4 linked regions of the Homo sapiens genome follow. The protein of the gene in region 2 interacts with the protein of the main gene of each other region in a biochemical or structural test. Each region holds a gene or a part of one and is shown on either strand. Other genes may lie near its edges. The genes, in order: AFAP1, PRKCD, RASGRP3 and DAB2.

What was found.
Region 1: the proteins of PRKCD (region 2) and AFAP1 form a complex in vitro, tested with the Homo sapiens proteins (one study listed by BioGRID).
Region 3: of the proteins of PRKCD (region 2) and RASGRP3, one has a biochemical effect on the other in vitro, tested with the Homo sapiens proteins (one study listed by BioGRID).
Region 4: of the proteins of PRKCD (region 2) and DAB2, one has a biochemical effect on the other in vitro, tested with the Homo sapiens proteins (one study listed by BioGRID).

The regions. Positions count from the first base shown.
Region 1 is NC_000004.12:7,929,862-7,936,861, reverse strand, and holds part of AFAP1 (actin filament-associated protein 1), read left to right. Parts: intron 1-7,000. UniProt on the Homo sapiens protein: Can cross-link actin filaments into both network and bundle structures. May modulate changes in actin filament integrity and induce lamellipodia formation.
Region 2 is NC_000003.12:53,185,179-53,192,212, forward strand, and holds part of PRKCD (protein kinase C delta type), read left to right. Parts: intron 1-425; coding exon 426-522; intron 523-748; coding exon 749-849; intron 850-988; coding exon 989-1,162; intron 1,163-1,425; coding exon 1,426-1,517; intron 1,518-2,161; coding exon 2,162-2,224; intron 2,225-3,541; coding exon 3,542-3,680; intron 3,681-3,879; coding exon 3,880-4,068; intron 4,069-4,694; coding exon 4,695-4,823; intron 4,824-6,929; coding exon 6,930-7,034.
Region 3 is NC_000002.12:33,472,394-33,479,660, forward strand, and holds the start of RASGRP3 (ras guanyl-releasing protein 3), read left to right. Parts: upstream 1-4,255; 5' UTR 4,256-4,314; intron 4,315-7,267. UniProt on the Homo sapiens protein: Guanine nucleotide exchange factor (GEF) for Ras and Rap1.
Region 4 is NC_000005.10:39,379,971-39,387,004, reverse strand, and holds part of DAB2 (disabled homolog 2), read left to right. Parts: intron 1-3,733; coding exon 3,734-4,387; intron 4,388-5,388; coding exon 5,389-5,551; intron 5,552-7,034. UniProt on the Homo sapiens protein: Adapter protein that functions as a clathrin-associated sorting protein (CLASP) required for clathrin-mediated endocytosis of selected cargo proteins.

The sequences.
Region 1 (7,000 bases), on a different chromosome or scaffold from region 2:
CGCCTGTAATCCCAACACTTTGGGAGGCCGAGGCAGGCAGATCACGAGGTTAGAAGATGGAGACCATCCTGGCTAACACGGTGAAACCCTATCTCCACTAAAAATACAAAAAGTTAGCCGGGTGTGGTGGCACATGCCTGTTGTCCCAGCTACTCGGGAAGCTGAGGCAGGAGAATTACTTGAACCTGGGAGGCAGAGATTGCAGTGAGCCGATATTGTACCACTGCACTCCAGCCTGGGTGACAGAGTGAGACTCCATCTCAAAAAAAAAAAAAAAAATTACCGCTTGTAAAAAATTGCATCACATGTTGAATGACCTATAGAGGAGCTATAGTTCTAAGGAATATGGTAATTAATTCTTTCAAACAGTAAGGCCAGGTGCTGTGGTTTACACCTGTAATGCCAGCACTTTGGGAGACTGAGGTAGGAGGATCACTTGAGCCCAAGATTAGAGACTGCAGTGAGCTATAATCATGCTACTGCACTCCAGTCTGGGTGACGGAGTGAAACCCTTTCTGTAAAAAATAAAAAGGTAAATAAATAGTTTAAAAATAAAATATTAAGCTCCTTTCCAATTTATCTGTTTGGTAAGGTGGGAATTGGATGTGCCTGAGTTTGTTAAAGCCACGTGTCTCTGTAGAAAGGAGACACAATTTTCTCTGCTATTCCTAGTTATTTGGATGATTATAGGGATTAAAAATAGCCATTTGGTCAAGTCGTGAGCTACTGAATTACAATTTTTGCTTCACTCAGTAGGATTTTGCCTGTATTTTGATTTGCATTCTTAATTTAGGAAAAGTTCTTTGTTATATGCTCCATGTACTTTGTTCTTTTGGGGAATGTGATCTTAGGAGAGGGCTTCAAAACGCGACCAGATTTTCTTTATGGTTTTCTAGATTTTATTAATGTTTTAATAAAACTTAACTAGTTAATTCTGCTTCTGTGTCGAGGTGTTTTTCATTTACAGCAGGCTTGATTTTTATGTGGATTAAATGAAAGGGAGGGGATGCATGGGTATGGAGAACACAGAGGATATATTTTTGAGCTCTGCATTTCAGAGTTCTTTTCTCTAGCCCTGGCCGGGGTCCCAAACAGGGAACTTAATTCGCTCTATCACTGAAGTATACCCTTGCTTTGATGCCATTGGTATTGTATCCTAGAGATTTGCTGTGGCTGCTAGGAGTGTTTCATAGTAAGGACTGATGCGACTTCTCTTTTGTCAGCTTATGAGTCTGTAAGCCATCTTGTTCCCTTTAGTATTATCTGCCTGGAACTGGAAGGTCAGAGATGAAGTTTTCTTAGATTATAAGTCTCAAGTCTTTGCTGTCTACCTTCCTCTCTCTCCCATGTCACCTGCTGTTTTATTTTCTGTTTTTCATTTTAATGTTTTTATTGTATAGGTGTCTATTATTTCAGGCTACCTCAAAACAGTTTTGGATATTGACAGGATATAAGTATGAATAAAATGTGAAAGATAACTTTAGTTCTTTTTAGCAGAGGACTGGAATTCGATATGTGGCCCTACTAAAGCTTTTGTTAAGTCCAAGTACTTTTCTGAACTTCAGTTCCCTTACCTGTAAAATGGAGTTAATTGCTAGTAACACCTGTTCTGCCTAACTCAGGAGATTGTTTTGAGGATCAAATGAAATCATGAATGTAATGGAATTTTGTAAATTTTAAATAAAATATTGTATTACCTAAGATTTAAAAAAAAACCCATTAAGAATGGAATGAATCTGAGTTTTCCTTTGAAATCCCAAATGTTTAATGTACAGAGAAGTCTTAATGTGTCTGTTGGGGAGCTTGATTAGGGTTTTTTCTATCTTTAATTGGCCAGTATTGTTTTATATTTTAGCATTTTTGGGGAACATCAAATTTGTGTTTCAGTTATCATTAATATTTTGCAAAGGTATTGAATGTGCATGATTTAGTCTTTAACAATCTCTTCAATTATTTACATTCCCGTGTAAAAAATGAAGTAATGAATGTCCACGTAAATAGCATTCCCATGCTTTAGCGAAGCGTAATTTCTTGACATTGCAGTTTCTAAGTGCCCTGTCTTGAGGCTGGGAAAACTAAAGGGCAGTCAGAGGTCAAGGTCAGCAAAGCATCACATTTTGACATTTGAAATCCAGCAGCAGCATCACAGTGAACCCCAGTCCAGCACCCAGGAAGTTTCTCTGCACCTGCCTCTCCTCCAGCCACCTCAGAAGCTGTGTGTGCGGTGTCGGGCCTGCTTTCCTCTCTCTCCTCTGCCTTTTCTTTCTCGTCACCAACTTCTCCTGAGTGCCCCTGATATCCCAGACAGTGGTAGTGGGAGTACAAAGGCTAATAAACCCGGCCCTGGTCCTCGAAGAATTTATGTTTTCTGTGCACATACTAAGTTATACTGTCATATATAGTGTTGACAAACACGGATACAGATTTCCTGTGAAGTGCAGGGGCACCGTTCTAGAAGCAGAGATGCAGAAGTGGGACTCGTGACTCACACGTGGAGAGCTGGAGTTCGTGGTCCAGTGGGAAAAACCGACCTGGACATCATTTCAGTGCAGCAGAGTGAGTGCTGGGTTGGGCTCCCTCGGGGCATCTGGAGCCGGGTTAGTCTGGTGTTTAGTCTTCTGTGTGGTACTTAGAGCTTATCAGTAAGACAAGCATTGGGAGGTTTCTAAGTGAAAGGAAAGGCAATCACTTACCTGAAACCTAAAATTTGTAGGTGTTCTGGGCCATTTATAATTCACTGTATCTGTTCTGTCAGAACAAGTCTATCATCTGTTGTTTTGGATGGAGTGTGGCCAGCCCTGCCTTTGGATGTAAGGAAATCAGGAAACGCTTGTCAGATGTCAACACCGTGCCAGACACTCCGCTAGGGATTTCCACGTAAATCACTATATTCATTTCTGTTGCTGCTTTAACACATTTCCACAAATTTAGTGGCTTAAAATAATTGAAATTGTATCATCTCACAGTTCTGTGGGGTAGAAGTCTGACGTGGGTGTCACTGGGCAAAAATCACCATGTGGGCTGGGCTGCATTCCTCACTGGAGAATTGTTTCCAAGCACTTTTGGCCAAATATAGTTCCTTGTGGTTGCAGGACTGAGGTGTCCCCTTGCTGGCCATCTGTTGGGGGCTGTCCTCAGCTCCTGAGGCCTCTATCTGGTCTTTGCATGTGGTCCCATCAGCTCAGGACTAGCTAGGCCAGGGACCTGGTCAGGCCCTCCAATTCCCCTGGGCGCATTTCTCTTCTTCACTCAGAGAAAGTTCTATACCCTTTTTTTAAATATTTTTTTTGAGACGGAGTCTCGCACTGTTGCCCAGGCTGGAGTGCAGTGGTGTGATCACAGCTCACTGCAACGTCTGCCTCTGGGGTTCAAGTGATTCTCCTGCCTCAGCCTCCTGAGTAGCTGGGATTACAGGTGCTTGCCACTGTGCCCGACTAATTTTTGTATTTTTAGTAGAGATGGGGTTTCACCATGTTGGCCAGGATGGTCTCGATCTCTTGACCTCGTGATCGGCCCAACTTGGCCTCCCAAAGTGCTGTGATTACAGGCGTGAGCCACCGTGCTCGGCCAGTTCTGTGCTCTTAAAGGCTCATGGGATTAGATTGGACCTCCCTGGTTAGCCCAGGATACTCTTCCTAAGGCCTGTGGCAAAGCCCTTTGGCCATGCCGTGTGACGTAGTCACAGGTCTCGGGGGTTAGAATCTCCCACCGCGGTTACCAATCCACTTACTACAGCAGCCTGGGAGGTGGTTTTCAATGCCTCTGGTTAACAGATACCAATTTTTTTTTGCAAATCGTCAGGAACGTGAAGATCCCCCCCCTTTTTTTTTTTTTTTTTTTTTGAGAGGGAGTCTCACTCTGTTGCCCAGGCTGGAGTGCAGTGGCGCGATCTCGGCTCACCACAACTTCCACCTCCCAGGTTCAAGGGATTCTCCTGCCTCAGCCTCCTGAGTAGCTGGGACTACAGGCACGTGCCACCAAGCCTGGCTAATTTTTGTATTTTTTGTAGAGACAGGGTTTCACTGTGTTGGCGAGGCTGGTCAAAAACTCCTGACCTTATGATCTGCCGGCCTTGGCCTTCCAAAATGCTGGAATTACAGGCGTGAGCCACTGCCATGAAGATCCTTCTTAAATGGAAAATCTGTTCCTCTGACTTGATGTGAGGCTGTTGGTGAGGTTTATAGCAGTGGAGACAGGTCCTTCAGAAATGGAGCTAAACTTTGTGTTTTGGAGTATTTTGATGGCCTGCCCTGATTACATAAGTTTTGCTAAGAAGTCATTAGAGTAATTCCTCTATTGGAAGAAACACCCATATGGGGAATTTGGGACCTTGCCTTTTCAAGTTTTACACAAAGAACTCTTCATGGGGTGAAAAGTACATGATTCCAGGTCCATTTCTAGAATGGAAACAGCTGAATCAACCCAACAGCGATTCACATTCCTGAGTTTTAGAGAATCTGATTGTTTCAAGGCTGAAGCAAAAAGCCCAATAAACAATGTTTGTACCTTTATTAATAGTTAGGAATTAGGTGCATCCTGTGGTCAAGAAAACAACTGATGGTGGTCACCAAGTAGTTTAAAACCAAGCAGGACCTCGTTTTATCATGTGGGTGTTTTTGATTTTTTTTTATGAAGTTTTTTTTCCTGTGCAATAAATGACAAGCTCTGACTTGAAATACATTTCCTTTAAGAAACCAGAATCTAGGGCCAGGCGTGGTGGCTCACACCTGTAATCCAAGACTTTGGGAGGCCTAGGAGGGTGGATCACGAGGTCAGGAGATCGAGACCATCCTGGTTATGGTGAAACCCCATCTCTACTAAAAAATACAAAAAATTAGCCGGGCATGGTGGCGGGTGCCTGTAGTCCCAGCTACTCAGGAGGCTGAGGCAGGAGAATGGCGTGGACCCTGGAGGTGGAGCTTGCAGTGAGCCAAGATCGCGCCACTGCACTCCAGCCTGGGCGACAAAGTGAGACTCCGTCTCAAAAAAAAGAAAAAGAAACCAGAATCTATAATCCTAAGGTTTTTAACCTGGCTTTCAGAAATTTATGAACTCCTCAAAATCCTGTGCAAAAATTTTGTGTATATGCATCCATGTGTGTTTATGGGGAGATGATTTATAGCTCTCCATACATTTTCAAAGTGGTTGCATTCCAGAAAATTTTAGAACACACCACTTGGTCCTGGTGTGGTGGCTCACACCCGTAATCCCAGCACTTAGGGAGGCTGAGGCAGTAGGATCCACTGAGGTCAGCAGTTCAAGACCATCCTAGGCAACATAGCGAGACCTCCACCTCTACCAAAAAAAAAAAAAAATGCTGGGCGTGGTGGTGCACACCTGTGATTCTAGCTACTCAGGAGGTTGATCACCTGATCCCAATAATTTGAGGCTGCAGTAAGCTACAATTGCACCACAGCACTCCAGCCTGAGCAACAGAGCAAGACCCTCTCTCTGAAAAACAAAAACAAAAAACCATATCACTTAATATACTATTCTTGTTGGTCAAGTATCAGATTTTGTTTAAAAATTAAATACTCATTTTTAGCAAAGGTGTACAGGCATACAGTTCTAAGAGTCAGAAATTAACAAGGCTTAGAACAAAACCCAGCAATTCCCTACCTTACCCTTTTCCACCCTGATCCCTGTTCCTTGGAGGTTACTGCGTTTATGTTTTAGCTCATTCTTCTAGATTGTGTGAAAGACAGGGAGATGTCCTGTGGAAGACAAGGACTCAGGTGGCTTACCCTCCCCGCTCCTCCTGTTGCCCACGTTTTTCTCCCCTATCCTCTCAGTATAATTATTGTGATAGTGAGGCCAGGCACGGTAGCTCATGACTTATCCCAGATTTTTGGGAGGCCGAGGCAGGCAGATCACTTGAGGCCAGGAGTTGGAGGCCAGCCTGGCCAACACAGTGAAACCTCGTCTCTACTAAAAAATACAAAAATTAGTCGGTTGTAGTGTTGCACACCTGTAGTCTCAGCTACTCAGGAGGGTGAGGCACAAGAATTGCTTGAACCTGGGAGGTGGAGGTTGCAGTGAGCTGAGATTGCACCACTGCACTCCAGCCTGGGCAACAGAGGTAGACTCTGTCTCAAAAAAAATTATTGTGATAGTGGGATACATAGTACAATAGTGTATATATTTAGTATTCATCCTGGTTTTTGGCCCAGAGCTTCTAAAACCCTTGTAATTTCCTGATAGGAACATCATTGGTTATAATATTTGGTCTTAGGTTTCAATTCCTGACACAAGAGCTTCTAAGACTTTTGGAATCTCTGGAGTGATAGGAGTGTCTTTTGTATGATAATGAGATGACAGGTGGCTTTGGGCCCCTAGACAGGTTCAGGATTAGGGCTGGTTGCCAGAAAGACCGAGGTATGATTAAAGAGTTGGACATACCAGCCCTACCCCTACCTCCGGGGAGGGGAGACGAGATGGGCTGGAGATTGAGCTAGCCACCGGTGGCCAATGAGAGATTGAGCTAGCCACCGGTGGCCAATGACTTAATCATGTCTATGTTATGAAAACTCCATAAAACCCTCTAAATATTGGGTTTGGAGAGCTTCTGGTTTGGCGAACTCATTTGGTGCTGGGGAGGTGGCACTCCCAGGGGCATGGGAGCCCCGACCTCCCTGCCCCGTGGTGTGCCCTGTGCGTCTCTTGCATTTGGCTGTTCCCGTGTTCTATTCTTTGTAATAAACCATAAGAGTAAGTAAGTGCCAAGCACTTTGTGTGTCACCTCTCTTACTTTTTCAGCAACACTGTGTGGCAGATAATGTCCTCATTTTGCCGGTGACAAAATGAGATTGATGCATTGAGTAACTTGCTCAAGGTCACATAATAAGAATTCAAGCTCTGACTCCGAAGCCTGTGCTTTTAACCAGCATGCTGCATACATGGCCTCTTTATTTGTTAGGATTTTTGGTGTGTCTAGGTCCTGACACCAAGTTGACCGTTGTGGCCTGAAGCTATTATAACGGTCCTGCTGAGAACAGAGCCG
Region 2 (7,034 bases):
CTTGAGGGTGAACCTGGGGACCACAGGAGTGGGTGTTGGAACACTTTGAACTAAGACTTTGGGTGTGGACGTTTGTATGTGGGGGGGGCTTGAGGGATGCCACAAAACCTAAAGGTAAAATTTTAGAATCAATCAGAAATGAAGCTAAATAGTCAAATAAAATCTATCGAGTGAGTGGTTGGGAAGGTAGGGTTCCGTTTACAAAACTTCTGTTTGTAATCAGAGCCTTTCAGACCACCAAGGCTTCTCTGGGCTCCTGGAAGAGTGCGTGTGTGTACACGCAGCCCGAGTAGGGGGCCTGGGCTGTGCCCCTGTTGTCTCCTCTTGGTGTTAAGGGTGGAGTTATACCTGGGAGTCTTCCTTCTGGGCTGGGAGTTCTGATAATGGTCTGACCATCTGGCCCCCCACCTCTGCTCCCTCCCCAGAGAGCCTCCCGGAGATCAGACTCAGCCTCCTCAGAGCCTGTTGGGATATATCAGGGTTTCGAGAAGAAGACCGGAGTTGCTGGGGAGGACATGCAAGGTGAAGCTGGGTCCATTGCCCCATTACGGTTTTTATTCCCCCTGAGGCCAAAGAAAGGGGACTGTCCTCCCTTCCATTGTCAAGTGAGACATGGAAGGAACCACCGGTCCTGGGGAGCGAGCCCCTTCCTCTCTGAGGCCCCTTCCCCCAGCCTACCCCAGGCCCCGGGGGAGGGGAGTTGTGTAGACTGAGACCCCGATCTGAGGAGGTGCCATCTCTCGGGCAGACAACAGTGGGACCTACGGCAAGATCTGGGAGGGCAGCAGCAAGTGCAACATCAACAACTTCATCTTCCACAAGGTCCTGGGCAAAGGCAGCTTCGGGAAGGTGAGGGCTGTGAGCCGGGCACCTGCTTCCCACCCCACCCTGGCTTCTTCCCGCTTAGGTGGCTGAGGTGGGAGTCTGTGAATCGGGCTGTGGCCCCTGCCCCGTCCTCACCTGCTCAGCACCCGTGTCTCCCCATCAGGTGCTGCTTGGAGAGCTGAAGGGCAGAGGAGAGTACTTTGCCATCAAGGCCCTCAAGAAGGATGTGGTCCTGATCGACGACGACGTGGAGTGCACCATGGTTGAGAAGCGGGTGCTGACACTTGCCGCAGAGAATCCCTTTCTCACCCACCTCATCTGCACCTTCCAGACCAAGGTGCCCGGGCCTCCTGCCGTCACCACCCCATGCCACAGCCATGTCCCACAGCTCCTCAGCCCCCCTCAGTCAGGGCTGTGTCTCCCCTTCAGGCCACTTAAGGCAGGGCCATGCTTTCCCCCCTCATGCCTCCCAGGGCAGAGTCGTCCACCTCAGCCAGGGCCTGTCCCTGCTGTTTCCTGTTGGGGCTTGGCCCCAGTGGCCCTCAGTGAGGGAGCCTCCTGCCTATTCCTCACCCCTGCTCACCACCCTTCCCACCCCAGGACCACCTGTTCTTTGTGATGGAGTTCCTCAACGGGGGGGACCTGATGTACCACATCCAGGACAAAGGCCGCTTTGAACTCTACCGTGCCACGTACGTAAGGGCCATGGTGGGGAAGGGCCCAGTGTGGAGGAAGGGCTACTGGCTCAGAGCCCACTTCCAGTCTGCCCTCCATGCCTTCTTCCCTCTCCCTAGAAAAGCCAGCCTGGGCTAGAGCGGCAACTGGGGAGATGTGGGGGTAGCCTGGGTCGGCACCACACAGGAAGCCATGGGTGGCAAGTGAACTGCGGCTGGGTGCGCAGCGCAAATACTCTGGGTCCTGGCCGCTCCGTGGGCCACAGCCAGGGCAGCCTTGCAAATGGTGGTCCTGCATGACACAGGACACAGGACCCTGGTGCGTGGCCCCCAGACCTGCTTCTCCCCATTCACATGCCCCTTACCCCAAACTAACCGTGTATGTGTGTGTGTGTGTGTGCATGCATGCAAACACATATGTACATGCATGTAAATGCATACACTCTTAGAGAATTGGCTCACTGAGAGCTTTCCCTTCAGAACTTTCTGCCTGGGCTGCCAGCCCCCACTTGCCTGATACAAGATGTACTTGATCATGCTCAGGTGGTCCATGGAGTTATTTGCAGCATTTCTTGCTCCTGGAAGTGGGGTTGAGGGCCCGAGGAGAAGCAGAGGCTGCTCGGCAGAGATCCCGGAACACTTTATCCCTCTCTCTTGCCCAGGTTTTATGCCGCTGAGATAATGTGTGGACTGCAGTTTCTACACAGCAAGGGCATCATTTACAGGTGCGGGGGTGAGGGCAGCGGGGGCTCTTGGGAGGGGAGGCTCCAGCCCCATCATATCTTCTGAAATGCTCCAAGCAGGATCCCCCCAACTCCAGTTCCTTCTCTGCTGGAAATCAATCTTTAGCTGGGTATTTGCCTATGCCTCCCACCCTGGTGTTAGCATTCCTGTGGCCACCATTTGAGGCTGGCTCAGCTTCAGGAACTAGGAACTCACTGCTCATATTTGACACCATCGCCCCACCCATCCTTGGAGCCGTCAGTCTCGCTCTGAAGCCCCATCGAGTCATCTAAGCTTCTGCCAGAAGGGACTCCTTCCATAAAGTCTCATCTAATAAGTTATGATTCCATCCTATGGTGGGAACTGTACACCCACCAAAAAGGCTGAGGTCAGGCTCTGTATACTGATGTGGGATAATGCCAAGATATGTTGTTAAGTGGAAAAACAACCTGTGGGAAAGTGTATATCGAATATTAGCATTCAGCCTTTAAAACGTGGGAGGGAGACTGAGCGCGATGGCTCACGCCTGTAATCCCAGCACTTTGGGAGGCCAAGGTGGGCAGATCACCCGAGGTCAGGAGTTCGAGACCAGCCTGACCAACATGGTGAAACCCTGTCTCTACTAAAAAATACAAAAGTTAGCTGGGCATGGTGGTGGATGCCTGTAATCTCAGCTACTCAGGAGGCTGAGGCAGGAGAATTGCTTGAACCCGGGAGGCGGAGGTTGCAGTGAGCTGAGATCATGCCACTGCACTCCAGCCTGTGTGACAGAATGAGACTGTGTCTCAAAAAAAAAAAAAAAAAAAAAAAAAAAGGTGGGAGCGAGCTGCATGCTGCCATATGCTTGTCCACGCCTAGAATTGCTCTAAGGAGAGCCTCATGATTGAGCTCAGTGGAAGGTAGACTTTGTACTGTTTGCCATTTCTAGTTCCCATATGCATTAAGTATATACTCAAATGACTAATTACTAAATATAGACATGGTCTCTGCCTGTGGGAAGTAGACAAACCTGAACCTGGGGGTCACTTCTGCTGCTGACTGCTAGGGGACCCTGGGCGAGTGACATCACCTGTTTGAGCCCCATTTGGGCTTCAGGAAGTAGGGCAGTGTATGCCCAGCGTTTAGCACACAGTAGGGGACTTGCAAGAAGCACCTGTTTTTAGGATCTCTTTCTCCTTCTGCTTCCTTTTCTGTTTCTCATTCCCTTGTACCCTTGGGGACAGTCCTGGACTAATACGGCTGAAAATTAGGACATGGGGGGCAGGGTTGGAAGGAGAAGAAATGTCCCCTGCTGACTCTTACCTGTCCCCTGTCCTTAGGGACCTCAAACTGGACAATGTGCTGCTGGACCGGGATGGCCACATCAAGATTGCCGACTTTGGGATGTGCAAAGAGAACATATTCGGGGAGAGCCGGGCCAGCACCTTCTGCGGCACCCCTGACTATATCGCCCCTGAGGTGAGCCGATACCCTTCCAGCCCCCCGCTCAGTCAGGCACCTTGCCTCCCCACGGTGGGCCAGGGAAGGATTCCCAAGGGCAGTGATGTCCAAGCCAAAGCCCATAGGCTGAGGCGGCCTGGCTAGGCTTCGTGCCCAGGGGCCCCTCTCAGCCTCAGCACCTCAGCTCCTGCTGACCTGCTGCTCTCCCCACCGCCAGATCCTACAGGGCCTGAAGTACACATTCTCTGTGGACTGGTGGTCTTTCGGGGTCCTTCTGTACGAGATGCTCATTGGCCAGTCCCCCTTCCATGGTGATGATGAGGATGAACTCTTCGAGTCCATCCGTGTGGACACGCCACATTATCCCCGCTGGATCACCAAGGAGTCCAAGGACATCCTGGAGAAGGTGGAGGCCCTGGGCTGGGCTGGGCTGGTCTGGGCTGGGCTGGGGCAGGGGCTGGCAGACACTGGGCTTTGGGTGAGGAGCTTCCTGTCTCTGGAATGGCAGCCTCAGTGGTGCTGCAGTCCTAACATACGGGGTATTGCTCTCTCACCATGTTCCCAGGAACTCCTGTCTGAGTCCTGTGCATAGAATCAGCCTGACATGGTGACTAAGGGCCCAGGGTCAGGAGACAGACCCGAGGCCAAATGCTGGCTCTGCCTGGGACTAGCTGGTCACTTAACCTCTCAGAGTTTGTCTCCTTATCTGTAAAATGGGGCTATGAGCAGACTTGACTCACAGAGTTGTTGGGAAGAAAATAGAAACATATGATGCTCAGCTGTGGGCCAGGCAGATAGTAAATAATAAAAAGTTCCACCAGCAGAGTCGCAGATGTCCAGCCCAGAGCCTGTCATCTCCGGGGGAGCTGGGAGCACTGCAGGCCAGAGTGGCCTCCCTCAGCCCCACCGTTCCCCAGGCTGACTGGGGCTGGGGCAAGCCTGGCTTTGCATCCCTGGGCCTGCTGGGGATTTGCTGAAGCTCCAATTTCCCATGGCCCTTGGGTGCTAACCAGGGTCCCTGCTGGGTTGCAGCTCTTTGAAAGGGAACCAACCAAGAGGCTGGGAGTGACCGGAAACATCAAAATCCACCCCTTCTTCAAGACCATAAACTGGACTCTGCTGGAAAAGCGGAGGTTGGAGCCACCTTTCAGGCCCAAAGTGGTATGTGATCCTGCCCTGTGCTGCCTTCAGGCTGAGCTACTCCTCTCCTGCCCTCCCTCTCTCCTGCATCATTCACACGCTTTCCACCTCTCCCTTCTTCCAGCAATCTCCATAGCATGTTCAGTCACAGCCGCTGCCCTTGTATTCTCATCCTCTCCCTCCTGACTCAGTCATTCAGCACACACTGGGGACTGTGGATCCCACTGTATGCAGAGGACCCTGTTTTGGGAAATAGAGTTAAGACCTCACTTTATCGCTCCATTCAATCCATTTTCCAATACATATGGGGAATCCTGAGTCCCTGTTGAATGCAGAGCACAGTGCTGGGCTGCACAGCAAAGTGGGAGATGCAGTCCCAGAACCGGAGGAGCTCTCAGCTAGTTGGAGAGATAAGAAACTTGCACACCTATGACAATTTGTGATACGAGATGACAGTATAAGAGATGCCCCAGGACACATGATCCGTTGCTATTGAGTGGGTCTGTCAGCAGGAACCCAGGTGGCAGAGAAGAGGGTGGGTCTGAGAGGCCCCGTTGGAAGAAGTGAGACAAGGGACAGCTGGGAGGCATTCCAGGTGGAAGAGGGGCTGGTTCACTCACAGGCCCAGAATCTACAGGGCTACCAAGGAACCAGCCTGAGAGCAGAGGCAGGTGGGGCCACTAAGAAATTTGGGGCTGTGTGGCCCCTCTGTGACCACAGTTCTTCCTTCCCACTCCCCTTCTGTCCTTTGATTCCCCTCCTCCACCAGGGCACACAGTTCCCACTGGGCAGCCTGTGTAATGCGCCCCACATTTGTGCTTTGAGGCTACAGAGCACTTCCCCTACACCAGGGACCTCAAACTCAGACGTGTCCTGGCTGAGCATGTAACTGACAGGCTAGGCCAGCTGCAAGAAAATCACACAGCCTGCTTTCAGTCTCACTTTTGATAGATTTCCTTCTCCGCACTAAGAAACACAAAGCAGGTGTGATGTACCCCTTGTCAGTGGGGCAGGGGCTGTCCAGGGGGCTCTTAGCACCAAGAGTGGGCAGGAAGTGGGCCCAGGGCTGCTTTAATCTGCCAGTTTTCAAAAGAAGCTGGAAATCTGGATTTTTAGGTTGCATTGCTCAATTTTAAAATATAAGTTCAGGCCGGGCACAGTGGCCCACACCAGCACTTTGGGAGGCTGAGGCAGGCAGATCACCTGAGGTCAGGAGTTCGAGACCAGCCTGGCCAACATGGTGAAACCCCGTCTCTACTACAAAAAATACAAAAAAAATTAGCCGGGTACGGTGGTGCACACCTGTAATCCCAGCTACTCAGGAGGCTGAGGCAGGAGAATCGCTTGAACCCAGGAGGTGGAGGTTGCAGTGAGCCGAGATCGTGCCACTGCACTCCAGCCTGGGCAAGAGAGTGAGACTCCATCTCTAAATGAATAAATAAATAAAAATAAATAAATAAAATATAGGTTCAAATTCCATTAAAACCCAGTACAAGCCGAAATGATTGTACTTGCCAGTTCAGTTTGGCTGAAGGGCCACCAGCTTGCGGTCTTTCTATATTACCATCCCATCATATCCTCAGGAGCAGAGAATCAGCAAATTTCTCCTGTAAACAGCCTGATAGTATATATTTTAGGCTTTTCAGGCTTGATGGTCTCAAAGCAGGCATAGACAGTATGTCAACAAATGGGCATGGTTGTGTATTACAAAAGCTTTATTTATGGAAAGTGAAATTTGAATTTCACCTAATTTTCATGTCATGAAATATTTTTCTTTTGATTTTTTTTCCAACCATTTAAAAATGTGAAAGCCATTCTTAGCTTGTGGTCCCCACAAAAACAGGTGGTAAGTGAGCCTCCCTGGGCTGTGATTCGGTGGTCTCTGAGCAAGAGGCTACCACCTCTCCTAACCCAGGCCCAGAGCTCCCTGGTCACTTTCCTCATCCTCTTGGGGAAATGGCAGCCTCCTTCCCATGGGGCTCCTTTCAGGCTGCTAGGGGAGGCTCTGTCTTCTGTTCTGGGTGAGGACAGCTCTGGCCTGGCCCAGCCCTGCAGGGACTCCAGCCTGGGGTGTCTGGAGGGCCATTCCCTAGGTCCTGTTCGCTCACCCCTGCCCTCTGCTTGTAGAAGTCACCCAGAGACTACAGTAACTTTGACCAGGAGTTCCTGAACGAGAAGGCGCGCCTCTCCTACAGCGACAAGAACCTCATCGACTCCATGGACCAGTCTGCA
Region 3 (7,267 bases), on a different chromosome or scaffold from region 2:
CTTTCAGTCCTAGCGTGTAAAACATACATTGAGATCAGAGACAGGCTTTTTGGAGGCAAGGTGATTAATTAGGAAATCACCGCAGACCTTCAGTAATAAATCAGAACATATGAGGGGCGGTAAGAGTGCAAGATGAGAAGAGAGGATTTTCACACCTAAGGGGCAGATAGCGGAAGAGAAGCCCAGACCTGAGGATGAAGGAGGTAGTAGTAAAATTTTATAGACGCCATGGGAGAGCTTTTCAAGGGGTGGTTGGTCAGTTGGGACAAATAGAGCCAAAAGGTCAAGTAAGATGGCTCACGCCTGTAATCCCAGCACTTTGGGAGGCTGAGGCGGGCAGATCACGAGGTCAGGTGTTCGGGACCATCCTGGCCAACATGGTGAAACCCCGTCTCTACTAAAAACATGAAAATTGCCGGGCGCGGTGGGTCACGCCTATAATCCCAGCACTTTGGTGACAGAGCAAGACTCCGTCTCAAAAAAAAAAAAAAAAAAGCAAAAAGTGTCGGTTGCCTTTGGTCTTTGGGGACTTGGAAAGAGCAGTTTCAGTGAAGTGAGGGAAAAAAAGCCAAGCCACAAGTAGGTTGAGAGTAAATGGGATGTGAGATGGTGAAGACAAGTATTTTTTCAGGAGTTTAGTTGTGGAGGGAATGCAGGAGTTAGGGCAGTAATTAAAAGAGCAAGTCTGGCTGGGGGCAGTGGCTCACGCCTGTAATCCCAGCACTTTGGGAGGCCAAGGTGGGCAGATCATGAGGTCAGGAGATGGAGACCATCCTGGCTAACATGGTGAAACCCCATGTTACTACTAAAAATACATGTCTCTACTAAAAATACAAAAAATTAGCTGGGCGTGGTGGCGGGTGCCTATAGTCCCAGCTACTCAGGAGGCTGAGGCAGGAGAATGGCTTGAACCTGGGAGACGGAGCTTGCAGTGAGCCGAGATCGCGCCACCACACTCCAGCCTGGGCAACACAGTGAGACTCCGTCTCAAAAAAAAAAGCAAAAAATCAGAAAGACTGTTGTTAGGATATAAAGACAATGTGAGAACGTGAGCATGTTTAGCTAATGAGCGCACGCTGAGAGCAAGAGAAGGCGTGGTTGTTGTCGAGAGTCCTAAGCAGGTGGGAGACACAGGGTGAGACACAAAGCCGAGGTAGGAGGTGGCCTCTTGACAGGAAGAGGGCACCTCTTCTTGAGTCGAAGACAATGCTTGGAACTGGTAGGGAGTGTGGGCAGAAAGATGGGATCTCCCCCATTTCTTTGCAAGGCTGTGTTATTGTAGAACCTTTAGTCACACTCCTGGACTCTGACTGAAAGGGTCCTGGGTCTTGGCCTCTGTGTTAACAGTTTGCTTCATAGGGAGGATTGAGGATCCATCCCTTCCTCTCCTGGCTATAGAACTAGAAAAGAACCTCTACACCAGTGGTCCCTAATGTATTTGGCACCAGGGACCAGTTTCATGGAAGACAATTTTTCCATGGACCGGGAATGAGGGGATGGAGATGATTTCAGGATGAAACTGTTCCACCTCAGATCATCAGGCATTAGACTCTCATAAGGAGCATGCAGTGTAGATCCCTCGCGTGCACAGTTCACAATAGTGTTCATGCTCCTATGGGAATCTAATGCCACAGCTGATCTGACAGGAGGCAGAGCTCAGATGGTCATGCTCCCTTGACTGCTGCTCACCTCCTGCTGTGCAGCCTGGCCTCTAACAGACCATGGACAGGTACCTGTCCATGGCATGGGGGCTGGGGACTCCTGCTTTACACTTATGATGTAGTTTGGATGTTGTGCCCACCCAAATCTCATGTTGAGATGTAATTTCCAGTGTTGGAGGTGGAGCCTGGTGGGAAGTGATTGGATCTTAGGGGCAGATTTCTCATTAATGGTTTGGTACCATCCTGTTAGTGCTGTTCTCATGATAGTGAGTGAGTTCTTTTATTTATTTGTTTATTTTAAGACAGAGTCTCACTCTGTTGCCCAGGCTGGAGTGCAGTGCAGTGGTGCGGTCTTGATCTTGGCTCACTGCAACCTCTGCCTCCCAGGTTCAAGCACACCACCACGCCCGGCTAATTTTTGTATTTTTAGTAGAGACAGGGTTTTGCCATGTTGGCCAGGCTGGTCTCAAACTCCTGACCTCAGGTGATTCACCCTCCTCAGCCTCCCAAAGTGCTGGGATTATAGGCATGAGCCACAACACCCAGCTGATAGTGAGTTCTGGCAAGCGCTGGTCATTTAGAAGTGCCCCCTGTCTGTCTTGCTGCTGCTCTGGCCATGTGACTCATCTGCTCCCACTTTGCCTTCCACCATGATTGTAAGTTTCACGAGGCCTCCCCAGAAGCCGAACAGATGCCAGTATCATGCTTCCTCCATAGCCTGCAGAACCATGAACCAATTAAACCTCTTTTCTTTATAAATTACCCAGTCTCAAGTATTTATAGCAATGCAAGAATGGACTAATACAACTTAACTTTCCTGAGGCTGTTGTCGCTGTTGGGCATTGAAGAGTTTCTAGAAGTCCCTGTTTCTTTATGTGGCATGCAATGGATCATCAGAATAATTAACCCAGTCAATGGTAAACAAAGTGATGGATGGATGCCATCAGATCACAAAAGTTTCTATTACTGTAAATACAAGGGGGTAAGTAAATCAAAATAATGTTTCAAATCCTCAGTAGGCCTCTTTTTCTGTTTCTAATTGAAGATTGTCACATCAACACATAAACAAAAATGCCTGTGAGGGAAATGTGTATTTTATGCATTGCATTTTTATATCTGAAGTTTATTTCTATTACTAACTTGAAATGCTGAGGAAGGGATTTGTTTTGGTGCTTACAAAATTCTCCCATTTGCTCTTCGGACTCTCACAAGTTGACAACAAATTACTGCCCTGATAGTATGGTGAGACTGAGGGTTTTTTGTCTTTTTCTCTTATTCTAGAAAACACTGTATCCTCTATATGGAGGGAAATTTCTGGTTTGATTAACACTGTAAATAATTATGAGACAAAGCCTAAATATAAAAGATTACTCACACAGGCTCTTACACTGAGTAAGATATTATGTGTTAAAAATCAGGGTTAATAGTTTAACAGGCACATTATGGTTCAGAAATCCCCTGGGGGACTTCAACCATCTTTTCTGGATGTTCACTTTGCCAAATAGGCTGCCTCTATGTCATATCTCTACCTGAAGGGCAGGCTCAGACACTGATTCGGGGAAGTGTCACCCTTACTATACCAAGAAGTCAGACATCCAAGGTCAGACACTACGTAAAGTCAGATACTTCAAGGGCTTTCCTTGGAAGGGAGGATGAAAAGGGAAGGGTGGGAACATCAGCTCAGGTGAGACATATGAATTCAACAAAACATCAGGGATGGTTTGCCACGTTTGCGAGCAGCACAGAAAACGGCAGTTTGCTCCAAGTTCCCAGCACACCAAAGGGGGCAGTAGTGCGTCTGTAAAGCGCGTTGTCAACTTGGTGATAATTTCTGTTTGCATTCACACTCGCCGGCTGATAATCTCAGCTGCTCGATGCAATTCAACAGATAACAATGCGGAAGTTTGGTCTAAAGCTACCTGAAATCACTTCCAAGAGCTCTTCAGATAAAGCTGCCTTTGATAGTCTTCATTAACCCCTCCCATATTTGCCCCTCAGCGTCCCTTGGCTTAGCAGCCCCGGCCTTTGAAGTCCAACCTAAGCATTCTTAGATGGTGAGTGAGGGTCTGCCTTCCCCAGCACCAGCCACCTAGTCAGGCTTGTGGCTCGTCTAACAAACTGGAGCCTGAGATTCTGAGAAAACGAAACCAAACAGTTGTACTCCGGGGTTAACACAGAGCAACTTCCACCTGCTGTGCGAGTTGGTGATCCTCTCTCTTGCCGTTCGAGAGCCCCAGTGAAACTTGAGTGAGATGAGAGAGCATGGAGCCTGCCAGTCTCCCCCTCTGCGCACACACACACGCAAACACATTTAACTTTCCACTTGCAGTGACCTGCCCTTCAGTGTGACTTATCAGCTGTTTGGCTTTTGTCACTAAAGGAAAACAAATTGTGGAATATCCCGCTCTGCATGCTCATGAGATGGCTGAGCCAACTCAGGGGTTATGAGGTGGTTTGCGAGTGAGGAGAAGAATGATCTTCAGTTTCTGACCTCCTGGCACGGTGGCGGGCGGTATTTATCAGGAGGTACATGTGACTGGTTAAGACTCAGAGCCCCAGCTTGAAGGAAACAGCTGCTCTCGGCGTGCTCCGGCACTTGGCAGCTGGACAGGCAGAGTGCTGATGTGAAAAATACCACGACAAAACCACCCTAGTAAGTAACTGGAGAACTTTCCTCTCTCTCTCTCTCTTTCATTCCCTCTCCGTGTGTGTGTGTGTGTGTGTGTGTGTGTGTGTGTGTGTTGCAAGCCACCAACAACTTTTGATTTTGATTTTGGTTTCCCTCTGGCACGATAGAAGGAGATATTTTATTTGTACCTGTTAACAGCCATTGGTGTTTTCACAGCCCTTTTTTAGAACCTGTTATTTTCGGCAACGTGTCTTGTAACTTTGAGGATGAATGGGGCATATGGCTTCATTCCTGTCTAGGAAACAGAAAGTTTGTTTCCCAGTGTTCAAGATTTTTCTAGTCCATGGTGTTTAGGTTCAAAGTCAAGTTCAGGTTATGAAGTAGAGACTTCATTGAAGTGAGTTGATGACTAGATTTGATTTTAATCTGTTTCTACCACTGAAACCTGAAAACGTAGTTGTTTAAAGTAACTTGTGAATTTATTGTATGGCTGATTTGATTTTTCCTATTCAATTTTTGAGAATATCTCATTTAACTGTGTAGAACTGTCTGCAATATAGAAGACTGACAAAATAATATTTAGATTCACATTAGAAATCATATTTAGATTTCTTGCATGGTTTCCAACTAATTGAAAGCTGTATTTTATAGCGACTTTTTTTCCCCCCAACAAGCTAATTCACCTTCATTACTTTAAAATGTTCAGTTGCCCCTGGTCTTCCTTCACCTTCATTACTTTAAAATGTTCGGTTGCCGCTGGTCTTCCTTATTTTAGTGTTTTCGTGATACTCAGGCTGTTTTTTCCTTGTTTATGACCTGACTGGGAAAGTGCTGCCTGCAGCTGATGATTAACTCTGGGAGGCCTGGCATCCAAATTACGGAGAGAACCGGCTCCTTCTCAGGTTCATTCAGCAGTAATGGTGCTTGCGCTTGGGCGAGCAGCAAAGCAGGCACCATGCTGGAACTGAGCTGTTGTTCGGTGACTTTTGTCCTTCCTTGGTAGTCACCAGACAGAATGCTTCAGAGGAAAGGCAAAAGGGGAAAAGAGAGAGGGCAGAGCTCTAAACTGATGACGTAAAGCTCTGAAAGTGACAGGTCTTTGAATCAGAGGCTGCAGGGAGATAACCAAACAGGTTCCTGTTTCTGGAGATCGCGTGGATCTTGAGGAGGGTGGGCAGAGAGGGGCTGTTTTTATTTGAAGTCTCACCAAATAGTTGTTTTGCTTGTGATAAGCCTAGGACAACCTGGAGTGCGCTTGTTTCCTCGTGTGACAAATGGATTCTCATACAGGCTCAAGCTATACGGTTTTCTTTCGCCCTCTGCCCCCTGCCATGAGGGAACACTGTTCTCTCCCCACCCTTACCATCCTTTGTTGTTTGTGGAGAATGGATTAAAAATGACCCAGGGCACGGCACTTCTGCGATCGAGTTTCCCTCAGCACAGTGGGTCTTGAGTACCGCACCAACCAATGTTCTCTGATGGAAGCAGTTTCGGATGCCCTGTCTAAACAAATGGCTAGTCTGACATTGAGAAGTTCTCCACCTTCTTTTCCTTCAAATGTAGAAGAATCCACAAAATGTAGAGTGGCCAATGAGGAAAAATAGTCCCAACTTCTCTGTTCCTCGGTATGGCATTTGTGTGAGGTCCTTGGGTCAGCCCGCGGCCATGTGGTCTGTGACTTCCCTGTCTGACTGCTGGGGGAGGGGGTTCCTCCTGAGTCATTCTTTAGGGAGTTTGTTCCTGGTATAGTTTCAGATTTTCCACAGGTTGATAGTGGAAGAGAACCCTCTGGTGAAATTGTGTCTCCGGAATCATCGAGCCTCCCATAATAAAATGGAATGTCTAAATGGGAGCAGTTGAATTATCCAACTGCTGTATTTTTGAGAGCCAACAGGCTCCTTTGAAAAACCCATGCCTTTTCAAAATATTAATAGCAAAATAATAAAAAATAATGATTTTACTTGCAGATAGTACATCCATTGACTCAAAGACTTTTTGACCTGGATAGGAATGATAGAATGTGCGATTTAACTCTTTCGTATCAAAGATGAGGAAACTGTAGCAAATTTATCGGAGTTACGGTGCAGAGCCAGAAGAGAGAGCTCAAGGCTTCCATCATAATTTCAACGCTAATAACAATCCCTTACTTTTATTGTGCACTTACTCTGCCAAATGATGCGCTAAACAAGTGTATTTATTTTCATAGTCTCCTCACAATAACTCTATGTGTTACATATTATTATTCCAGTTCTATAGATAGGAAACTGAGGTTCTTGACCATACGTAACACAGACAGGAGGGACACCCTTAGTTACTTGACCATATGTAACACAGACAGGAGGGACACCTGGATCTGACTGTAGAACCTGTATACATTAAAAAATAAAAGTGGAATCCCACACATTTAAATGTAAAAACTCACAACATGCAAATGAGAGTATTTCCAGCACAATATGATTACACACACAATGTGTGTTATGCCCTTTTCGAGCTCTCCATGACAGGAAGGGCTAGGTTTCCCCCTGTGACAGTCCAAGCCCAAGCTCTCTCTATAGGATCGCTGGCTGGTGGCATGTTTTTCTCTTTGAAAATAGTTCAGTGACGGTCTTGATGTTGGTAAGAACAGCAACCGGGAACTTTGTTATTAACCTCCAGCACACGGCTCCCATGCCCCTTCTGGCCTTTCCCTCCAGTTTTCCTGTCACTCCTTTCCTTTGGAGGACAGCCACTCCACCCATGCCCCACCCCAAATAGCTGGCTTAGTGTTGATAAAGCTATTATCAGACCCATCCCCTTTGCTCAGCCTGGAAGGTTGGTTGTCCGAGTAGGTTGTTGATGAATAGAAACCATGCACTCTGCCACTCTGCGCTGTTTTTTTGAGCTGTGGGTGTAAGGGGTGGGTCACGGGGCAGGGGACTAGCTGGCAGTGGTGAGGGAGGAGAGGTATGCTTTTCTTCACTGCCTGCACCTGCCATTT
Region 4 (7,034 bases), on a different chromosome or scaffold from region 2:
AACTCACTTGCCTATAGAACCTTTCATTCTTCATAATTTTTGTTATAGTTCTGAGGATAAACTTTTTAAAGTACTAGACTAGATTATCCTGACAGGTCCATCCTAACTCTGAGGTCCTTTTGATTTGTAGTCAACTTTGTGCTCTCCTCCATTAGTGATGTTTTCTCAAATAAATCAGTATCTGAACACTTACTTCCCAAGTATAAATGACATTCAAACAAGTAATATTCAAAGAGAGCAAAGCACTCAAGATATGAAGTGGAATTCCACTGGAATAGGCAAGGAAGTACTGCCTATATAATCTACTTCTGTAGACTTCTAGAATGTTCTAAAAAAGGAAATGGAAAACAACATGGATAATCTTCAGTCTCATTTTTATTAGACTTTATGAAGTCTAAGAATTTTTTATTTATAGGAATTCAAGTTTTAGTTAAACTAACAATAAAGTAATAAATACCATCAAAATATATACTCTCTGATAACCAAAAGAAGGCTAACAGATCTAATTATGTGCTGGTTAGGCTTTGACATGTTCTTATCTATTGACTCTATAGTCATAGGTCAAAAATAGATTTATCTCTACTTGGTAAAGCCAGCATGTTTAAAAATATTCAACTCTTTCAACAATTGCTCTGAAATATGTAAAGAGAGAAAGAAATCTAAATTACCTAGACTTTATTATTGGTCCTAGATGGTTGTCACTCCCCTCAAATTTATACAGAAAAGTTTTATGAGTTTCAAATAATGCTCATGTTGCAAACTATGTGGTATCCCCTAGAACAGAATTTTTATTGGCAAGCCCCTTGAGCATTATCCTTCCACACTGCATCTCAAAAAAGGAAAAGAAAGAAAAACATAAAAACCCATGTTCTGCAACTTTAACAACCACTTGAAAGCACAGTTACTATGGAAAGAATATAAGACATGATCTGTGATCAAGGAGATTAAATCTGGTACAAGGGATGGGATCAGGATACAAAGCAGGAGTGTCACTTATGTCCTTGTGTACATGCCATAAGATAACACGGGTGGGCACAGGGCAAGTGCAGACAGAAAAATCGATGCTAAAAGCTTTGTAAAGAATCTGAATTTGAGTTGGGTCTTTGAAGTGTGTAGGAAAATAGATCATAGTTGGGCTAGAAACAACGTGGGTCTTATTGTGGATCATTTGGAAATTTGGCCTAAGGAGGTTTATTTTAATATAGGGAGCCAGCAGTAAGCCACTTAAGGCTTTGAGTAGAGAAGTCCTCAGTCTGACAAACTGGAATGGTTAGGTGAGATTAGCCACCCAGAGAAGAGCTAGGCTATGGAACTCAGGATTTATGTCCGATTACTGGAGCTCCCTACGAGCAGGTTCTGTAACGCACTGCCGTGTCTCCAGTGCGTGCGGCTCAGGTGCTCAAACAGTGGCCAACTGGAGGCAGTGTTGACAGTTCGACAAAGAATGAATGAGGCGCTGACCAAGTGGGTGGATGAGGAGTCTTTGGGCTCTCAGTTGTAGTCTGTGAACTACACTTTTAATCTTGGATTAATAACAAACCCAGCCTGAGGAGAGCCTTATACATTTTACTTATAGGGTGACTATTCAGAAGTCTAACATTGTGGCTCCTGTTTGGTGTCCTAAGAACTTCTTCTGAAGTATTTGAAAACGAGAACTCTACCAGCTGTGAACACTCAACTGTTCTAACCCAGAGGTGGCTCAAAACAAATAAATAAATATTGAAATCACAAGCTTTTGTAATACATTTTATCCTACCTTTTGATTGTATAAAGATCCCTAGATTAATAGCTCTTCCAATCCATTTCTCTGATTAAATTTTTTTTTAATTATAAGCTCTTTCTTGTGACAAATTCTTCTTTTATAAAGAGAAAGCCTGGCTTTGGCTTATAAAAACTGTATTTTTATGCCTCACAGTAAAGGAATCCAAAAGATAGATTACCATTTAGGTCTGATTTTGCTGTCTCTTTTGTGGCCATGAAATAGGACTTAAACTTTCTAAACAATTGGGTATTTTTTTTTCTTTTAAAAGCCAAGGAGTTCTATTTGAACCCTTTTGTATTTACTAGTTTGCAAATTTTATATTCCCTTGAAGTTGTTTATTTTCCCCAATGATCAAAATATTTAGTATTCTGCTCAGGGTAATGCAAGATAACTACTATAACTTGCACTTCAGCAAGGCATTTTTTATCATTTATATTCTTCTCTGGGTAGCATAGTTAAGTATTTAATGGATCAAAGTCAAGCAGAAGGAAGTGATGTCAGTATGAAAGTTCTGTTCTAGGATGAGTTATAATTCTGTCTTTTACTGGAATAAAGACATGTCGGATTCATCAAATTTACTGCTTTTAAGCTGAGAATTTTTTATCAAACAGTTGAAAATCCAAAAAATTAACACACCAGAGAAATGATAGAGAGGGGATAGAATTAGTAGAGCTACATATTTGATATGTCTTTCAAATTAACTCTTAAACCCATGTCTCTACCTTGTACAATAGTCCCCCTTTATCTGCAGTTTCACTTTCTGAAATTAAGTCTGTGGTCAACCTTGGTCTGAAAATAAGTGAGTACGGTACAATATAATATTTTGAGAGAAGAGAGACAGAGAGACCACATTCAAATAACTTTTATTACAGCATATTGTTATAATCATTCTATTTTATTACTTGTTAATCTCTTATTGTGCCTAATTGATAAATTAAACTTTATCATGTGTATGTATATGAGAAAAATACTGTATATAGGTTTTGGCACTATGTGCCATTTCAGACATCCACTGTGGGCCTTGGAACATATTCCCTGAGGATAAGGAGGGACTACTGTATATAAATTAAAGATCAGTTGTTGGTTGACTTTAACCACTAAATAGATGAGATTACTGTCACAACACAGGCAACTCTAAGCAATGTTATGAAAAGATGTACAAATAGGAGATCTTAATGTGTGATTGACTAAATTAGATCAGTATTGAGTGTCTCTTTCAGAGGACATAGACAAAAAGGGTAAGCCCAGAGGAGAGACTGGGATGATGAGGATGAGATCCTACTTGACTATCAGCTTCAGCAAGAGCCTTAAATATTAAGAGACATACCTGAAGGCCGTGATATAAAAGAAAAGCCTCTCTCCCACCTCTAGAGGAAAGAACTGGACCGATTTTAGGGAAATGCATTTGATCTTAAATTTCATCACAGCCAGAACTATAAAATATGAATGTATTAGTCGATGAATTTTCTCATTTAGAGAGATGATCCTACATGACTCTGGGGGTACAATAGAGAGGACTGTATGTGTATAGGTAGGAAGCTGAGCTAAGCTTCTGAAATCACTTACTTTCAAGCTCAACATACTTTGATAATCATTTATAGTGACTCACAATCAATTCCCTTTAAGACTTTCAAAGTCACAAATTGAAACAATGCTCATAATGAATTAAGCCAGTCTGTATGTGTGAACCAGGGTGAGCAGAGACATGAAGTAAGCAACAGTAAGATTTCACCTAATGAGGTTGAGACTTAAATAAAAGGGCATGATATTGGGGAGGAATAGAAAGGACCTAGTCTATAGCTAGGGAGTAATGGACTACGGGGGTTGATGGAAGGAGGTAATGATCAACCGATTTATCAAGACCAAATTCAAATGGAAATTCTGATAATCCTAGTCATCTTATGTAATTTTCTCATTTGAAGTCACAACATGGACTAACACTTTCTTTTTTTTTCTTTCCAAATGTGATAGGAAAGCAAAGATATCCTGTTAGTGGATCTAAACTCTGAAATCGACACCAATCAGAATTCTTTAAGAGAAAATCCATTCTTAACAAACGGCATCACCTCCTGTTCTCTTCCTCGACCAACGCCTCAGGCATCCTTCTTGCCTGAAAATGCCTTTTCTGCCAATCTCAACTTCTTTCCCACCCCTAATCCTGATCCTTTCCGTGACGATCCTTTCACACAGCCAGACCAATCGACACCTTCTTCGTTTGATTCTCTCAAATCTCCAGATCAGAAGAAAGAGAATTCGAGTAGCTCGTCTACTCCGCTGAGTAATGGGCCCCTGAATGGTGATGTTGACTACTTTGGTCAGCAATTTGACCAGATCTCTAACCGGACTGGCAAACAGGAAGCTCAGGCAGGCCCATGGCCCTTTTCAAGTTCGCAAACCCAGCCAGCAGTGAGAACTCAAAATGGGGTATCTGAAAGAGAACAGAACGGCTTCTCTGTCAAATCCTCCCCGAACCCTTTTGTGGGAAGCCCTCCCAAAGGACTGTCCATACAGAATGGCGTAAAGCAGGACTTGGAAAGCTCTGTCCAGTCCTCACCACATGACTCCATAGCCATTATCCCACCTCCACAAAGTACCAAACCAGGAAGAGGCAGAAGGACTGCTAAGGTGAATTGTCTTCTCCACATATCCATTAGCAGAGTGCATGTTCGGTACCAAAGGGTGGTGTGATGCAAGCTCTCTTTCCTGCTGCTCTCGTAGTTTCCTGTGTTGCTGTGAAATAGAAGGTGGGATAAGGCACTTTGGTTCTCCAGGAGTACTTTCCTCTAACTGCCACCGTTTTTAAGCTTCTCAGCAGTGTTTTTCACACCCTGCTTTCCGTGTGCATGTCTTGTCACTTATGATTAAACTAAACACAAGTTTTTCCATTTTTAATGCTGCTATGCTTCTATACCTCTGGTAAGTTTGATCATCGTGTTCTGGGTTGGGAGGGTGAGAGTTCTTGTGATTCCCTTTGTACTTCCCTGACACTAACACATGCCCTGCACACCCATCATGTTGCATCAGTGTCCATGGTGGTGGTATAAAATTCTCGAGCTTATCTCCTCTTTTAAATACTGAGTAAATACATAAGCTTTTTCTAAGCTTATGTATTTACTATTACCACTATGATCTCAGCTTTATTTAAGAGCAATTTAAAATGCAGTTCCCATAGGTGTCTTTTTTTACCTCTCCTAAGAATATACAGGCTTGCCTGGATTAAGACCCTATGATCTCTATGTAGACTGACTTAAAATCCAATGGAATGAACAAAAATATTTAGGATGCTTATTGGTAGTTGCCCCTTTTACACACTTGCTCCCCCAACTTCAAGCATTTAGCGATGAGACCAGACCAATGTGAGTGTGTAAAGGAATATAGTAGATTTCACTTTGCAAGTCCTAGGTAGTGTCAGACACTAAGACTCAGTAGTCCGTCCGTTGTAGGAATCTGTGTCTTTTTTTGGAGGACTCTTTTTCTGTAGTAGTAGTTGTTGTTGTTCATCTGTCAAGAAAAAAGTTTTCCTTTTTGTGGCTCTCAAATTGGGGTATAGGGTAGGAGACAAAATGAGGCTGTATTTCACTGTTAGTGAGTAACTAAGGCTTCTCCCTCCCTCCCTGTCCTGTCAGTCTTCAGCCAATGACTTGCTTGCATCAGACATCTTTGCTCCTCCCGTCTCAGAACCTTCAGGCCAGGCGTCACCCACAGGACAACCTACAGCCCTGCAGCCCAACCCTCTGGATCTCTTCAAAACAAGTGCTCCTGCCCCAGTGGGGCCCCTGGTGGGTCTAGGTAGGTGCCTAGAGATAAAATTAAGTATGACTCTTTTGCTTTTGCTCATAAAATGATGATGCATCGGAAGAGATTTCATACTCCCAGAGGGTTTTACAGCATAAGATTTGAGCATCCCAGGGAGCCCTTCTCCCACTTCTACTATACAACCCCACATCCATTTGATATTCTTGACTTGTAACTCACATTTGGCTCCTCGAGGCAGCATGAGACAAGAAATTCATTTTCAGTATTGTACTTACTTGAACCAACTGGTCATGGTTTCCTGAAAGACAATTGTAAGGGATTCTAAACTCAGACCAGCTTCAGTAGCAAAACAGGGTTGACATAAGAGAGGCTTGTCTGTCAACATGCATGTCTTCCATGTCTTTTGCCATAATAGATCGAAGGCCTATGTCCTTTCAACACATAGCCCTCTTAGAAGGAATATATGCCCAAGAAGGATGTAAGTTAAGTCTGAAGCAAGAATAAGTCATAGAGTGAAAGTCCTAGGTTCTGGGCCCAGCTGTGTTCCTAGGTGTATGGTAAGGGTAGATCAGGCACACATCCTGATCAGTCTCTGAGCACTTCTGCCATAGGAGCTCCTTGCCAATATTTTGGCTAGCTTGAGTGTTTTACTGAAGCTAGAACATAAGTCCTAGAAAGCCAAAGTTGAAAAAAGAGAGAAATAAGGGAAGAGATGGAATTTTATCAGACAGCTAGTATGCATTGACGCTCTTAATTCCTAAATGTGTCATTAGCTTGTGTGAGCCGCTGATCACTCTGTGGTAGGACAGTGGGAAAGTCCACTTGACTGAGGGCTGGCCTTGCTATTCTTAGTCCATAGCCTATAGTTCTTTTCAGACTCCATGGTACAGTTTTCAGAAACCCTGACAATAGTTTTTGCTGTCCTGCTATGGACTCTATTTTTCTTCTCTTGGCACCTCTACAAACTCCAAATGGACTCTGGCTTGGGAGGTGGAGGACTGTAGACGAGGAAGGACTCTCCTCTCCTTCGGTAAAATCTGACCAGGGATCCTGGCTTTCTCTGCCTCCTGCAGTCAGTCATCAGGATCCTTGTTTTGTTTTCCTCTCTGTCTCTGTTGTTTTCCTACAAAGGAAAATAGTTTGGTTCTTTTACAAGAAATCTGTTTAATCATATCTAGAATAGGGTGGCCAGAGGAGGACTGTTACTCAACTGCTGAGTGGCAGAAATCCGTGAGGGTATGAAAAGCCAGCTTGTCCCAGGTCTCTGCTCGCATTTACCCCATCAAGAGGCTCTCTCTAAAGACTTCATGTCTCTTGGGGGCTTCCCCCTTTCTGCGTTGCTCTTTTCCTTGCACCCCCAAGTGGAGCTGGTTGGTACCCTTCCCTCACAGAAGACCAGAGTGCTTGCAATGCAATGTCTGCAGCGAGATCACATCACAGAGCTTTTTATCTGATATCAATGCCCTTAAGAATTTTTGCAGCCAATATTTAACAAGTCAGCCTGAAAATACAGCTG